Linked DNA regions of Homo sapiens: region 2 is linked to region 1. The links come from fine-mapping of genetic effects on gene expression. Tissue or cell type: sun-exposed skin. Region 1 holds a variant in brackets; the other region holds the start of a gene. All regions are shown on one strand. Distances are from middle to middle. Region 1 overlaps TPRG1 (tumor protein p63 regulated 1). Region 2 holds the start of TPRG1 (tumor protein p63 regulated 1).

What was found. PIP is the estimated chance that this variant, and not a neighbour inherited with it, causes the effect. A credible set is the group of variants that fine-mapping cannot tell apart.
Region 2: it holds the start of TPRG1, and the variant in region 1 is the best candidate, but not a certain one, in a credible set for the expression of TPRG1 in sun-exposed skin (GTEx, PIP 0.65).

Annotation. Positions count from the first base shown.
Region 1 is chr3:189,304,676-189,307,595 of GRCh38, reverse strand. All of the region lies in intron 4 of TPRG1 (tumor protein p63 regulated 1), which reads right to left. Among named protein-coding and RNA genes, the nearest start is that of TPRG1-AS2, 66 kb to the right of the region's middle. The variant A/C (reference allele first, on the strand shown) is at 1,643.
Region 2 is chr3:189,170,883-189,173,802 of GRCh38, reverse strand. It overlaps TPRG1 (tumor protein p63 regulated 1), which reads right to left and starts at 1,832. Exons shown (of 6, transcript NM_198485.4): 1 at 1,672-1,832.

The DNA of each region.
Region 1 (2,920 bases):
GCCCTGCTATTGCATAACATAGCCTTATTTCCAATAGACACAAAGTTAAAAGAATTGCTCTGAGGAGGCTGTCATCATTCATGGGTGAAAAAAGCCTGCCTACGGATCCCAGTCAGTTATCAGAAGAAAACCTCTGTCTCAAAACAAACTATGCATTCTTAAATATACTCAATATGAGCAATTTTGAGACTATAGGAAAATAAGGAAGCACTGGATGTGAAGGAGACAATTACAAACAAGTTAAGTTGTCAGGGTGAGAAGATTGGGTCTTTGGCCAGGTGCGGTGACTCACGCCTGTAATCCCAGCACTTTGGAAGGCTGAGGTGGGTGGATCACCTGAGGTCAGGAGTTTGAGACCAGCCTGGTCAACTTGGTGAGACTCCCATCTCTACTAAAAATACAAAAATTAGCCGGGTGTGGTGGTGGGAGCCTGTAATCCCAACTACTTGGGAGGCCAAGGCAGGAGAATCACTTGAACCCAGGAGGCAGTGGTAGCAGTGAGCCAAGATCATGCCACTGCACTTCAGCCTGGGCAACAGAGCGAGACTCTGTCTCAAACAAAAAGAAGAAGAAGACTGGGTCTTTCTCACTGAGCTGCTATGATGGGTTAATTAAAGTCCTAAGTAAAGGTTGCCAACATCAAATTATCAAGCAAATAAATATTTGGAAGTTTTCTTTCTGAAATTATACTCGGTATAAATCATGACTTTCACTAGCTTGTGTCTTTGGGCATTTCACACCACCTTTCTGATCTGTAGGTCACAATAATTTTGTGAAAAACAGGAGGATAACGGATGATAAAAAGTTTTGTTTCTGTAAGGCACTGTCCCACCAGCATATATTGAGTGTCTACTATGAACCATACTACCCACTCTGTACTGTTAGAGATCTTATATTTTTTATTTTATTTAACCCATATAGTAATTTTGAGCTACTTTTGAAGACATAGATGTAGTTACAGGAAATAAGTTAAAGAATATCACCAGACTTAATCAGATCATCAAGTCAAGAACCACTAGTGAAATGTAATTTTAAAAAAGGGGCAGGGAAAGGAAAAACACCAGAATCACTGGACATAAACAAAACCAGAGAAGCAAATCTCTAGCACAGAGGAAGTATTGGGATGTTTTATGCTTGTCTTCACCTATTGATACCTCTTCTTCCACCTGTATCCGGGTCCAAGGATGCTTCTTATGTGTCAGCTTCTGCTTTCCATCAATGTTTTCATATGTAAGATTTCTACTTGAATCTAAATCCATCAGAAAAACTTCCATTCAGATAGCTTAAATAAGCTCTTCAATTCTCTTTTCTTCAGTCTGAATAAGCCTAACTTCTTAATTATATTTTCTGATGGGTTAAAAGTAATCTTTTAAATCACCTCAGAGCTGATCCTCTAAAACATTCCAAAGTTCTCCATTTTCAATTCCACCATTTTCTTAGCACATTCTCTATGCAGGGTATAGAGAAAGGAATAAGACTCAGTGCCTGAACTCTGTAAGCCCATGATCTGACAATCTATGAGCCGATTTTACTATCAATTTGTTCCCAGACCTCAAAAAGCACAAATAGAAACTTGCAAGTCTCATTTCAGAAATAGAGGATCACTTATTTCAATTATTCCCACTTTCTATCCTCAAGGAAA[A/C]CAGCTGGATCTGGCCTCCATTCCCACAGTAGTGGAAGTAAGAAGGACAATGTACTCTTTACTTCTAGTAAGTTCCAAAGCCTCCCAGAAAGAGGCAGAGGCAGGGGAAGGGTCCCATAAGGACTTGGTGGAAGAAGGTTTGTAATAGTCATGGATGTTTAGGATCCTAAACTATCTGAGTTGGAAGGCCTTTTGGAGAGGTCAGTTTCCAATTCTTTGATTTTATAGATATGTAACTGAGACTAGAGTTTTCAAAGATCACAGTTCTTACTTTAGTCATGTTAATTACATGTTTCACTCAGTGACTCAGATTCAGAGTTCTACTCAAACACCGTTGTTGGCAGGATAGAAGACCAGAGCAATTACTACTTTAAATCATCATAGCAGACCAATAGAAGTTTTGCTTTCTACACACAAAAAAAGCAAAGACATGCTGAAGGGGTGAGTTTTATACAGTAGAAACTGCTCATACTAGTGGCAAAGCACACAGTCATGAAAAACAAATATGGCTTAACAACACAAAAAGCAGCTACAGGTTGGAAGAAGGAAACACATTCTTTGATAACCAACTTTGTAAGAGAATAAATTATTTTTGACAGGAAAGACTCCTCTCCTCCAAGTTGTTTTTAGCTGAGCTAGAAAATATGCCAGTCAGTCCTCAGTCTGAGTTAATATACTCATTCCGTGCATTCTTCTTTCTTCAGAGAGAAGCCACAGGTCCTCTTGCATAGGGCAACATAGCTGGCTTCCTCTCCCTGGACTTCTCACTCTCCTTCTACCCTGGCCTCCAAAGAGTCTCTGTTAAGGCACTAACCTACCTGTTAGCAAAACTGAATGAGGACACCTAGCTCCCTAGAAGGAAAGATGGCAGCTTTCATTATTACCTCCATCAGCTGCCCCTCCTTTCTACTCATCTCAAATCTCAAAGCTCCACCACAGAATTAAAAACATAGCTCGAGGCACCAAACCGAGATTTATGAGGAAGCACAGACATTAACTCTTGCTCTAAACGCAGGGCGTGTGCTTGTAAGTATGGGTGAGCAAACAGAGGGAGGCTGTGAGTGGGAGGAGGCGGGCGGGCGATGGGGAGAGAGCAACTCAGAACAACATGATCTATTTTCTTAATGTCTCCTTTCCCCCTACCTTAGAGCAAGTATTGTTGAAAGGCAGACTTCTAGGCCCATGAAATGTTAGTCTCTTGCTTATTTAATCTGGACAAAAGCAGGGACAGAGTTGGCACCCTGGAGGGTATTCAATGCTCCTTTGCTCATTGAATGA
Region 2 (2,920 bases), 130 kb after region 1:
CAGTCTCCAAAATGACATGGCTAATGCTTCTGCTTGGGACTCCTAGCACCATTCACTACATATTGTGGGCAATGAAAGAGTAAGAGACCCATATGTGACTTGCAGCTCCAATGATACTGGCTGTGTGACTTGTGCATATCACTTCATCTTTCTGGGCCTCAGTTTCTCTGTTTTGAATAAAGTAATCAATTAAACGATTTCTTCAGGATCCTTACAGCCAGAAAGACACCAAGAATATATAGAAGTTCCAGCCTGACCAACATGGTGAAACCCCGTCTCTACTAAAAATACAAAAACTAGCCAGGTGTGGTGGTGCATGCCTGTAATCCCAGCTACTCAGGAGGCTGAGGCAGGAGAATCGCTTGAACCCGGGAGGTGGAGGCTGCAGTGAGCCGAGATCGCGCCACTACCCTCCAGCCTGGGCAACAGAGCAAGGCTCTGTCTCAAAAAAAAAAAAAAAGAAGAAGAAAAGAAAGAAAAAGAATATATAGAAGTCTGCCAAAGATTATATAGCATTACAACCCAATGCATTTGTGGTGGCCCCAAGGGATGACTATCAGTACTGTCATAATAAACTCAAACAGACACACACACACATACACACATGCACACACACACAGAGGAAACATTTCCTTCCACAACTAAGAATGATATAACCTTTTGAGCATGAAAAGAAAAATGATAGCTAAAATTAGCATCTTAAAAAGTAAACTACATAATAACTGAAGATGAGATTTCCTTAAAACTGTAGAACAATGAGATACTATGATAGCTGTCACAAGAGAGGAAATTGCATGAGTGTATTTGAAAGGATTTGGGGGTGTTTTTCCCCCATTGAGATTTGCTTTTCTACATACCACAGTGTGACTGAAAAGCTAAAATATTTCCCCAGGGCCTGTATGATCTGTGCCTCACTACGCTGCCTCTGACATTTGGAGAGTGTCATTTAGCCCCGAATTAAAACCTGCTTATACAGAGATCTGGAGGATGTCTCAGGCGCCAAGTAGTCATCGCTGTCTCATTTGCCTATCACCTTTCAGTTTACAACTCCCCTTTACATACATGCCCTCGTTTGTTCTCTAAAAACAGCCCTGTTTGATGGGACCTATATATTATTATGAAATTTCCCTCAGATGAATTCAAAAATAACCCTCTCAAACTGCCTGCAAAGAAATAATCACCTTTTGTTTGCCATTTAACGGTTCAGAAAGGCTTTTCACTTCTTTTGGCTTTTGGGGATAAGGTATGACCTGCTGGGTTCTATAATAGAGGAAGAGGGAAGAAGGAATCAAATCTAATCTTGGCCTTAACCTGCTGATCCAATTGGAACAAATCACTTCAATTGACCAAGCTTCAGTTCACTAAGCCACCAAATGGAGAAAATTATACCCATCCTACTGCACTATAGGGCAGTTAAGATCAAAATCAATATATAGATAAGTATGTCAAGTGGCTTTATAGGCTAAAAAATGCTAGCCTACAAGCCTCATCAACCCTGGACAGTAAGGAAGAATAGGGAAATTTCACATGGTAATGCAAAACTACAAACCTAAACCAAACTGCAAGTCAGTGGGGGAGGTGACCAGAAACTCGGCTTAGGGGACAGAAGCAATTGGTTCATAGAGAAATAACCCATCTCTGCAGAACCAGTGACAAGCCACTTGATCTTACCTGACTAGGCTGGTCCTCAAGGCTCTTCTTTCTCTTTCTGCACAAAGGGGGCTAGACCACAGATAGTGGCCAGGAGAGGTGTGATTGGCTCAGATAAAGCCAGGCAAGACAGTGCCCTGTGCTGTGACCCCACTCAGTCTGAATCTCACTTCACCAAGTAGGCTGAGAGTTACACTGCCACCCTCAAATAGTCAAATGAAAGGACTGAGGATGTTTACAGGGTGGAACTCAACCCGTCAGAGGCAGAGAATTGGGTTTGTGGGTGGGGCCTTTCTTGTTCTGCAATGACACACCTTTACCTCCTGTCCTCTCCCTCAAGAAGTCCTGCATTTTTCTGCCAACTCCCTCTAATACACATCCAGCTGAGGGAGCAGGAGCAGCCTATCATCCATTCCTCCATGGCTTCTGTATGCCTCCAAGTAGTTATAATTAAGCTTAAGCCTGAGGCCTACACTCCTATCATTAATATTCTTTATGATGGCTTGATTTATTGGATATTTGTGATTTTAAGCATCACTACCACTCTTGTCAAAAATGTAGAAGACATGTAGAGCAGTGTATCTCTGAAAACAAACACATGTACACACAATCTCTGGTCAGTATTCCTATTAGGAAATGTGCCACATGATATTGTCTCTATGTAAGTGTGTATCCCCCTCCCTAGATGGGGGGCCCCTTGAGGGCAATGCTACATCTTATTCTCTCATATACTCCTCAAAACACCCAGCAGATAGTAGGTAATAAATAAATACACATTGAATTAATGATGATCCATTAATATCTATTTAGTGAATCCTGATCTGTCATTTAATGGCTTTGCAGCCTATAGCAAGTCATAATCTATCTTTCTGAGGTTTTTTAATTTTGGTCATCTGTAAGTTGAGAGTATCATTTCTCCTTCAGAAATGCAGATAGAACTTGAAAGGAAGCATATGAGAATAAACCTAGGATAAGATTTGACATAGCAACGGTGCTAAAAAAATGAAATAGAATCTTAATGAACACATTCTGAAACCTAAGCAAGTGTGTTCTACATACAGAGTTGGTATAAAATAAAGTATGAACTGCACAAGTAGGTGGATTGCTGAAAGAAAGGAGAGCACAGAAAACAAAATGCTGTTATGTGTATGATTGAATTTCAATCTTCTATCCTAAATTCTCTACTTCATTCAGCAGACTCTGGCCAAATCAGATTGTATTTGTTTGATGGCTGGAGGAACGGGTGTGCGCTGACAAAGTAAATTGGTTG